2 linked regions of the Homo sapiens genome follow. The protein of the gene in region 2 purifies or fractionates together with the protein of the main gene of each other region. This does not show direct contact. Each region holds a gene or a part of one and is shown on either strand. Other genes may lie near its edges.

Region 1 (5,422 bases), on a different chromosome or scaffold from region 2:
TACATTAATTTTTTCCATTCTCACTTTGGGAAATGGAATTGTGTTTTATTCATCTCTATAACATGTAATAGAACTTAGCTTATAGTAGCATGTGCTCCACGAAATGTTTGTTGAATGTATGGATGAGTGTAAGATAATTAAACTATTTTTTAAGTACTGCTCTGTGCTGATATTTGCAATCTATTTCTCTGCAGGCATCAGCAACTTTAAGACTTACATTTCTCTCCCATTTCCAGACATCTTGAATCCCCCAAAGGGGCTCTGGGCATTTAAGGCATTGTAACAATTGATCCTGAAAGAAGAAAACATAGCACTGTGAGTTCGTGTGAAGTCTGAGCACATAATCTGACTGGCATGGTATTTCTTTTAGAAGTTTTATTTTTAAATTCCTTTCCTCCAGAGGAAAAAATTGTAATTTAAAATCTACTTTGATTTCTGGATCTAAGCAGTAAGGAGTGTACCCCTTTTCTGGTGAACTTTGGTTGCTTTTGGTATTCCCCATCCTTCCAAGGAGATACTTGTTTATTTCACCCTGGTCCCTATACCACCAGTGGAATTTGTTACAAGACTGACTCTGATCTTACCAAACAGTCCCAGCTTGCATTGCAGAAGACACTGTGAGGGCCTTGTTGATGTCATTAGTAAAGACAGCTGCTACGAGTCCAAAGTCTGAGTTATTGGCTCTTTCGATAACTTCATCCATCGTCTTAAATCTCAAAATTTCCTGAACAGGGCCAAAGATCTGCAAAAAGATAATATGACTCAACATGGTTGCTCTGTCATTCCTTTACCTGCTTTCCACATTTCAATGCAAGTTTACTCTGCCTTGATTACTTAAATGACCTTTAAGTTTAGCAGTACAAAACTGTAAAATCTCCCAACCTTTCCTAGGATAAGATTATGCAAGAAGAGTCTGACATTAGTGTTTAACCTCCCCAACTTCCCCAACCTCTCCAGCATCACTTGATTCCACTGTGTATACTAGGGGTGTCTTCTTTAGGTACAGAAGAGCAAGTGGCATCCTCCGTGATCCTGCAAACACTGCTCCAGAACGGAATGCTCTGGACTGTGGGCTGATTTGCTCCTTGTCCCTCTCTTGCACAGATGTAAAGATGCTTCAGTGGATTCTCTCTCCTGGTTAACATCCCAGTGACCCACATTTAGGAGAGCCGAACTATTGCCAGTGTATTGTTGAGGCCAATGGCAGGCTATTCTGATTGTTCTGTTGGCTAATAATAATCATAAGCACATAGCATGTCACCTGGCCTCCACCTAGCTTGCTTGTCTTTTGGTTTATTTTTCTTCTTGAAACTGGAATTTTCATAGCCATGTTCATTACTGTTGCAAAATGAATATATGTAAAATATAAAGAGCTAAAACTCTAATATCATCCACTAGAAATGCTCTAGAAATGATCCCAAGAAAGATGTGGCTTTTGTAAGAACAGCATATTTGATACCTCCTCCTTGGCAATCCGCATATCATCAGTGACGTTGGAAAACACTGTGGGCTCAATGAAAAACCCCTTTCGGCCCAGTCCTTTGCCTCCACATTCCAGCTTGGCGCCCTCAGCCACACCACTCTGGATGAGTTCCAAGATCTTGTTGTACTGTTTCTTATCAATCTGTGGGAGACAAGACTTAATGACTCCAAATATAACCTTCTATGAAAATGGAAATAAGTATGTTCTTGAGAATCTTTCATTTTAGGGTTTTTTTCAAAGTTTAACTACACCCAGTCAGATCATATAAAACTGCTGTTACTTACCAATTTTTGACCTACAAAAAACTGGCAATTTTGTATGGTTAATCCTAATATATCGACGATTCCAATAAATGTACTGCTCTGATGATATTGCCTAATCAGAAGTACCAGCTGAACATTTAGAAAAATGTTTCAAAATGATGGAGACACTGGCTAATTTACTATTCAATGTTCATATGAGGGAAAATTGACTTTTATAATTAAATGAGTAACTTAGCAAGTTGTATTGATAGTAAAAAGAGGCAAAAATTAGCACACAGCCTTTTTAGATAGTGCTACATACCCAATCTTATTGTGGTTTGTTTTTAAAGGAATTCCTATTACACTTTTAGAGGAACTTTAGAGGAAAATATTAACAGTAAAGAGTGAAGGATGAGCTTCCTAGTCCAAAAAAAAACAAGGTCAGTCTTCCCCCAAAAAACTGACGGAGTTATCATTTGCTTATTATGGTAAATAACACAAAAACCTACATTTACCCAAGTTTGAATGGCTCAGCCAGAACATCAATCTTCTCTTGAATAATCCCTAAACCCATGCTTTAGTGACCCATATAAGAGCTGGTCCAGGTTCCTTCTGAAAATTCTCAGAACCTGTCTACAGATTAAAACCAGAATTCCCTTTAGAAATATGCCTCGATGATTACGGTGAACCTGCAGAGGAGGCTGTTCAGGAGAGACTTTGTGGCCCTCCCCACCCCACTAAAGTACACGAGGCCTTCAGATTAAGAAATAACCATACAGCAAAAGGGAAGTGAGCCAGCCCTTCACTTCCTACACTTTCACAAGCTACAAGGGATCTGTCCAGACTGGTTCAGGCTGCTGGAGAGACTCCTTGGCAGCTCGTAAAAGGATAGATGGCTCTAGGAAAGAAAGATATCTACCCTCCTTGACTGTGGCATCTGTAGGGATGTCCTAAAGTTCAGTGATTGGAAGGACTGGGACTGGGTTCTAGTGTCCAGACCCATCTTGTCATACTCATGGCTTTCTTTAGAACTGAGAGACTCCAGCTTAGTCCCAAAGGTCAGAATATTCTTTTTTTTTTTTTTTTGAGACGGAGTCTTGCTCTTTCGCCCAGGCTGGTGGAGTGCAGTGGCACAGTCTGTAAGCTCCATCTCCCGGGTTCACGCCATTCTCCTACCTCAGCCTCCCGAGTAGCTGGGATTACAGGTACCCGCCACCTCGCCCGGCTAATTTTTTTTTTGTATTTTTAGTAGAGACAGGGTTTCACCATATTAGCCAGGATGGTCTCGATCTCCTGACCTCATGATCCGCCCGCCTCGGCCTCCCTAAAAGCTGAGATTACAGGCGTGAGCCACTGCGCCCGGCCAGAATATTCTTAAAGTAATGGTAATCCCATAGTTTTTCAGAGATAAAACTTAGAAAGGGACAGAGAAGCATAAGAAATAAGCAATCCCTCTCTGGCTCCATTTCCAGCCACGAAGACATGGTGGAGAATAAAGGAGTCAGCCGAAAAGGAAGATGTCGCTTTGCTGGGACCTACTACAGTGTACACAGTTCTGTGCCAGTCAAGGATTAAGTAAACAAAGGGAATGGTTATGATTTTTCTACCTGGGGACCCTGCTCAGTGGTGGGGTCAAAGGGACTCCCCACTACGCGCCTCTTGGCCCGCTCCACGCTTCTTCTCACAAACTCCTCATAGATGGACTCCTCCACGAAGATGCGAGAGCCTGCAGTGCAGCACTGACCTTGATTGAAGAACACACCCTGGTGGGCCTGCTCCACAGCATAGTCCACTACAAGAGGAAACAGCCATGTTCTCACCGCTTTGCCTGGGGAGGGGCCTGTCTATGAAGCCGCCTCCCTCCCCTCTCCAAAGCCCTAGGTATAGTGTGCTCACTGCATGACATAACCATGAATAGCCCTGGATTGGGAATGCAACTAGTTCTAACTACACCCTGACATGCTATGTGAACTTGAACAACTTCACTTCTTTGGGTCTCTTTCTTATTCTGCAAACAGAGGTACTGAACCTCGTGTATAACAGGAGTCTCAAACCCCTATATACCACAGGGCTTGGGAGATAAGGTACAGGTATGAGTCTGCCAGGTGGTAAAGCAATGTAATGGAGGGGCTAAGAAGGAAAGCCACTACATTTAATCATTGCCATGCATAAATATGAGCCCCAGGTTGCCAGATCCTCTCAATTTTCACAGAAATCAATATTTTAATGTGCAGTTCTTGTTTTGAACATAGTGTAATGTTTAGACAGGTAAACATGTCTATATTTTGTATTTGGCCAATTTACAACTCCTAAATCTACAGGGCCTTGGGGCTGTATGTTTGGTACTTGGGGGATTAAACCGTAACACCAATGGGTCTTCTTTGAAGACACTAAATTTCCTCTAGATTGACATGGACTTGTGTAAAATCCTATGATAACTCTTCCATATTCATCCCTTATATCTTACACTTCAAAACAGCTTAATCTGACGTGCATTAGTTGCTAAATGACCGACTGACTGAATAAATGAATCAGTCAATGTTAGGGAGATGAAGTTCCTACTCCTCAAGAGGAACAGGCATAAGGATTCTGATTTTCTTGACAACTAATATAAAGCTAAAGCTGAACTCTGCAAATTCCAAGCTGGTGCTGAAATTCAAGCAATCTGCTTTTGGTTTTCTGATCTCTCTGGTGGTGAGACTGGGAAAGCAGCTCTGCCTGGCAACAAGTGGAGGGAAAAAAAAAAAAGAATCACTGAATGAGATGGTGGGATTTCCTTACCTGGAGAGCTTTTCAAACAGAAACGTCACACCTGTGCAGAATGGCCTAGGTGGCATCCTTCCTAGAGACATGGGGTTTCTCAGTTACTTCTCTAAGCCTCTGTAAGGTCCTACTGGCAAGTGGAATCATCCCAGCTTTAGGACTACTCATACCGAACTGACCCACGTGTGCTGTCATCCTAACTGAAAGTCATGCGAGCAACAGAAAGGGGCTGGAATTGACTAAACAGAGAAGGGGCTGTGGGTTTGGAAAATGCTGGCAGGGCTGGTCAAGTCGGATTTATTTAAAATGGTCTACCAGCCACCAGGCACAGTTGAAAAGTTACAGATTTATTGAATCTAGGCAGAGAGACTATCCTTCAGGTGCTCAGCAGCTGAGACCACTGCTGTTGAACCATATGCCACTGACCAAGCCTTCATCTCATCCCCCTATTCTACAACATCACAGATTCAAAATGGCTCATTAGTGTCTAGAAAACAACTGGTTCAGTCGTCAACTGAAAAGTGCTCTTTCCCCATTATTAAACCATTTTCTCCTTAGAGGAGATCTTTTTGATTGCCCTTAGCTTCAAATATCTTTTGCTAGTGTCCCATCAAAAGTGGAGATATAAAAGAGAGCACCAAAGGGTGTGTGGTGGTTCATGTATGGGACCTGTAGTTGACTTACAGTCAGCATCAGCAAAAATAATATTAGGACTTTTGCCTCCAAGTTCCAGAGTTACTCTCTTCAAATTACTTCTTCCAGCTGCTTCTTGGATAAGCTTTCCAACCTGAAAGAAGGGAAATGGAGACAGGTTTTGCAAATCCTGCAGGTGAGACAGTCACCGGCCAATGCCAGCTCAGGGCATCAATGGGATGCAACAGTAACAAACCCTAAAAGGCAAGCCAACCCAGCTCTTGTCATCAGCTTGGGTTAC
Region 2 (5,422 bases):
TTACCCTCTGGAGCAAAGGACAAATTTGTGTATTCTTGAGTATAGTAAAGGTAGTGTCTCCTTTCAGGGCTGAAGTCAGACATGTCTTCTGCCCCTTGTAAGAGAATAGTGTTCCCTGAGCTTGGGGTTCCTCGGCTGTGATGCAACGCCTCTGCCTGCACAACATCCATGTGAGCCCCTCCATGTCATGGCTATGGGACTTGCGGGGCAAGAGAAACAAACACATGCTTTCTGCTCATAAGGTTCTTTGTTTCTGAGTCTTCTTCATGGGAGTGAAGATTTCACAGGAGTCCGTGTCTTCTGTCAGCACCTATGAACCTGTGGCCAACTAACTTTGTTAGCTTGTAAGTAGGGTAAAATCTCAGACCCTTCACGGTTCTTAACAAGCATTTAGGTCATATGAAATGCAGGGTAAATATTTGATAAATGTTATAATAATAACCATTATTCTTTATCAGTGATCATTTAGGCATTGTGGAAGATGATGAGTTAGACATACCAGTTAAGAGGCCATAGTCCAAGATGATGAAAACATAAAAACAGATATTGTCAGTGGGAACCGAATAGAGAGAAGAGAGAACTGAGAGAAACTAATGAGACATTGACAATATTGGGGGATTAACTGGATAGGAAGAAAGAGAATCAAGGATGACTTCAAGATTTATGGTTTTGGAAAGAAACAGTAGCCATCAGTGAAGACACGATACATGAAGAGGGGAAGATGAAGTTTGTAAGAGAGGGTGACAAGCTTGGGGGAGAGGGGCAGCCAGGTGGTAAAGTGAGTAGGCAAGGAGTCTAGAGCTTAGGGGACGCTATTGATGGAGAGAGAGGTTTGGGAGTTAAGAAAATCTAGATGATCATTAAATCATAGGAATGGATGAGTCTGCACTGGGGTTTTCACCGTGCTCAAAGGGTTCTGAAAATGTTCTGTTTGAATTGCTAATAGAGCTGGTTTCTATCCCCAGCTCCACCATCACCCCGTCCATTAACCAGAACAAAGACATCAGGCCTCCAGCATAGCTGCTTGGATTAGAGCCAAGTGTGAGGATAGATCCCCTCCCACTGGGCCTTAACCCTGCTTCCAGGTGCTGAGTTTGACAAGGTTTACTTTGAGAAGACAGTTCCTTTGCTGAAAGCAGGACTGAGGAGAGACTGAGGAGTGGAAAGAGAAAGGGGCTAAAGGCTGAACTTTCAAAAGCCGGCAAGAGTATCTTGTGTTATCTGGGCTTTGTTCCTTTCACACACCCATGACTTTTCCATAGGAAACCAGAAGGAAGAGGGCGAAACTCAGATTAGCTGATCTGAGATATTTAGGATTCTTCTCCTTTGTGCTTCTGTGTATCTTAGTGGTAAGCTAACTCAACACTAAGCTTTCTGAAGCCTTGGGAATCACTGGGCTCAATCATGGTGTTACTGGAAGAACATTGGCTTTGAAGACTCAGATGGGCCTAAATTTTACTCTGGGTCCCCAATTTACTATCATTGGTACCTTGGGAAAATGGCTTCTCTTAAGTCTCCATTTTGTCTTTTATAAAATTATGGGTGGTAATAATTATATCAATGAAATATTGAGAGGATTAGAGGTGATATATGAGTCTGATTCTTCCATTGAAACCTGGCAGGGTTGAGTGCCGTGATCTCTAAACTTCTGTCTGGCTTAGATTCCATAACTTGTGATTTGTAATATGATGTTGCATTTCTTTTTTTTTTTTTTTTTAATTGATCATTCTTGGGTGTTTCTCGGAGAGGGGGATGTGGCAGGGTCATAGGATAATAGTGGAGAGAAGGTCAACACGTGAACAAAGGTCTCTGGTTTTCCTAGGCAGAGGTCCCTGCGGCCTTCCGCAGTGTTTGTGTCCCTGGGTACTTGAGATTAGGGAGTGGTGATGACTCTTAACGAGTATGCTGCCTTCAAGCATCTGTTTAACAAAGCACATCTTGCACCGCCCTTAATCCATTTCACCCTGAGTTGACACAGCACATGTTTCAGAGAGCATGGGGTTGGGGGTAAGGTTTATAGATTAACAGCATCCCAAGGCAGAAGAATTTTTCTTAGTACAGAACAAAATGGAGTCTCCTATGTCTACTTCTTTCTACACAGACACAGTAACAATCTGATCTCTCTTTCTTTTCCCCACATTTCCCCCTTTTCTTTTTGACAAAACCGCCATCGTCATCATGGCCCGTTCTCAATGGTCGCTGTCTCTTCGGAGCTGTTGGGTACACGTGCAGAAAGGCTGTCACTTCACACTTGGAAGATTGCACAGCGGCCAGGCAGAGGCGCTCCTCACTTCCCAGACGGGGTGGTGGCCGGGCAGAGGCGCTCCTCACTTCCCAGACAGGGTGGCCGGGCAGAGGGGCTCCTCACATCCCAGAGGATGGGCGGCCAGGCAGAGACGCTCCTCACTTCCTAGATGGGGTGGCAGCTGGGCAGAGGCTGTAATCTTAGTACTTTGGGAGACCAAGGCAGGTGGCTGGGAGGTGGAGGTTGCAGCGAGCCGAGATCACACCACTGCACTCCAGCCTGGGCAGCATTGAGCATTGAGTGAGCAAGACTCCATCTGCAAACCCAGCACCTTGGGAGGCTGAGGCAGGCAGAACACTCCAGGTCAGGAGCTGGAGGCCAGCCCGGTCAACACGGCAAAACCCCTCTCCACCAAAAATACAAAAACCAGTCAGGCGTGGCCGCACGTGCCTGCAATCCCAGGCAGTCGGCAGCCCGAGGCAGGAGAATCACAGGAGCCCGAGGCAGGGAGGTTGCAGCGAGCCAAGATCACGGCAGTACAGTCCAGCCTCAGCAACAGAGGGAGACCGAAAAAAGGAGGAGAGAGAGGGGGAGAGGGAGAGGGAGAGAGATGTTGCATTTCTTTCCGTATGAAGTCTTTAAAAGAACCTTTCATAGCATGCACATTACAGAGTTTAGGAATTCTGCCTTTGAGAATAGTTCATGTGTTCCTTTTTTCTAATTGCAGTTTTTCCACTACTCCCAAGGGCAAGTGTACCTTGGGAATTATCCACCATTTAAAGACAGAATCAGCTGGGCTGGAGACCTTGACAAGAAAGATGCATCAATCAACATAGAAAATATGCAGTTTATACACAATGGCACCTATATCTGTGATGTCAAAAACCCTCCTGACATCGTTGTCCAGCCTGGACACATTAGGCTCTATGTCGTAGAAAAAGGTACTTCCTTGAGTATTTTGGCAGTAATAATGCAGTCTCCTTTATCTCATGTTTGGTTGGAAAACATGAGTTGCATTTCATGGTGGGTTTGGAGGGAGGATTTTTGCCATACAGTTGTGCTCCCTGTTGCCACGAACCTGTGGCTCTACCAAACACACTTGGAGCTGGGAAACTTGTTGCTCATTCTGACCCAGAGTGGCTGATTTCTCCATTTTTATTCCTACCGTCTGGTGCCTATTGGTCTAATTTCAGGAGTATGAATTTTTCAGTGTTAATTAGAAGAAAGACCAAATTCATTATGTTTGGATGTGATGGGCAGTGGGAAAGAAGGAGATTCATACTGTTTTATATTCTCCAGGAGAAAGCTTTCAACAACAGCACAGTTATTTCTTCCTTTTGATTTTGAGAACAAACAGGAAATGCAGGTTCTGGTGTCTCATTTTTGAGACAAAGTCTGTTTTGTTGGAGAGTAGATCCAGGTAAATTCACACCTCCGGTTTTTCTTTAGAGCACTGAGAGGGATTGTAGGTGTAGAAATGCTTAGTTCCATAGTTCATTCTTTCTCATCTAATATTCACATGTCATGAATTACATAGTAATAGGATAGATAGTAGGATCTCATAGTTTGGATAATAAAAGAGGGTACGGTAACTGCTAAATGAAGATACTTGCTCGTTAATTTAATAAAATTCCATGTTTTCTCTCTGTAGCAATGTACCTTAAAACTATTTTGTTCTTTCTCTCTAGAGAATTTGCCTGTGTTTCCAGTTTGGGTAGTGGTGGGCATAGTTACTGCTGTGGTCCTAGGTCTCACTCTGCTCATCAGCATGATTCTGGCTGTCCTCTATAGAAGGAAAAACTCTAAACGGGATTACACTGGGTAAGAAACACTGTTTTTTTAGGGCAGGGGTGGAGGGAGGGAATCAGGGTTTATAGAAACTTCTGTATTTAATGAAAAAAGGATTTTAAAGAATTAACTACTATTTTCTTTCATGTCAGAATCAGGCAGTCTCCTTAGGAGGTGTTCTAACATGGGCAAGTGGAAATCAGTGGGCCTGCTATTAAATGTGGAATATGATTCTAATCTCTGTTCCAGTTTCCTTCTTAGGTTTGGTGAGATGAGCTGCTCAGCAGTCTGTGCTCTGTGTTTCAATACCATCCACTATGCAATTAGTATTCTTAAGACATCACTTACCCAATTTAAGAGTTTAATTTCAATTTCTTGCTAATAAACTCACAAGGTGGTTCTTTCCAGTTAGGAAATATAAAACCCTAATTAAGAAGTTGTGAGCTGGAATTAGTGGCATGTGCCTGTAAGTCCCAGCTACTTAGGCTGTGGCAGGAGGATTGCTTGAGCCGAGGCGTTTGAATCTAGCCTAGGCAACATAGCAAGATCCTGTCTCTTTAAAAAAAAAAAAAAAGAAAGAAAGAAAGAAGAAGAAAAAGCAGTGGTTTTAATAAACTACCTCCCCCAGCCCAGTGTGATGATGGTGCAGGGCTTTTCCTTTTTGTAGTTCCCCTACCCCACTCCAAGCTTAAGTAGCTTTATTGCTTTGATCATTCTTAGCTAGATTCACCCAAAATGGGATAATAAGAATTGATGACAAAATATATCAGCAATAAAGAAAAATAGACTTTCTTTTTGTTTATGGCTTCTCAGATGGAACACGTTTAAGCATAGGGTGTGTATCTAATTAAAGGACCTTCTCTTTTCCCCACTCCAGCTGGAAAGCTAACCCATATAAGCTATGTAGAACTCATGTGGTAAGACTGGGAGCAGAGGCTGGATTCAAGTTGATATAGCATGAGCAGTGTTGCAGATGCACAGATCTAACTTTAGCCATCCTGAAGGGACTCTGATGTGAAAGGATTGCATGTCCTGAACTCTCTTGCTGGTGGATGGTGGGAACCTCTATCTATGGGCTCTGCTGATCTAGAGTTTTTAGGAGTGCTGTGTTTTAACAAGTTTGAGTGTTCAAATTCAGATATTACTTGCTTGGAATGCTTCTATTCTGCTGACTGTATCTGCCCCCCTTGCATGGTGAGTGTTTTATGATTAAATATAGTTGGACTATTGGTTTCAACATGAGACTAATCCAGGGTGGTGACATGCCGGTCTTTGTAGTTCTTGCTTCGGGGTTAATGAGGGGCAGGAAAGAGTTCCTTAGACTCCTGCATGGCATCATGAATGCTGCTGTTCTTCTTACCTTGGTTTTTTTCCTCCTCCTCTACCTTT

Evidence for each region. Proteins that work in one complex are often made in the same cells at the same time.
Region 1: the proteins of MPZL1 (region 2) and ALDH1A2 purify together in Homo sapiens (affinity purification with mass spectrometry; one large-scale study listed by BioGRID and IntAct). This does not show direct contact.

The regions. Positions count from the first base shown.
Region 1 is NC_000015.10:57,960,553-57,965,974, forward strand, and holds part of ALDH1A2 (retinal dehydrogenase 2), read right to left. Parts: intron 5,276-5,422; coding exon 5,173-5,275; intron 3,518-5,172; coding exon 3,333-3,517; intron 1,625-3,332; coding exon 1,460-1,624; intron 743-1,459; coding exon 585-742; intron 293-584; coding exon 218-292; intron 1-217. UniProt on the Homo sapiens protein: Catalyzes the NAD-dependent oxidation of aldehyde substrates, such as all-trans-retinal and all-trans-13,14-dihydroretinal, to their corresponding carboxylic acids, all-trans-retinoate and all-trans-13,14-dihydroretinoate, respectively.
Region 2 is NC_000001.11:167,769,303-167,774,724, forward strand, and holds part of MPZL1 (myelin protein zero-like protein 1 isoform a precursor), read left to right. Parts: intron 1-2,972; coding exon 2,973-3,186; intron 3,187-3,933; coding exon 3,934-4,066; intron 4,067-5,422. UniProt on the Homo sapiens protein: Cell surface receptor, which is involved in signal transduction processes. Recruits PTPN11/SHP-2 to the cell membrane and is a putative substrate of PTPN11/SHP-2.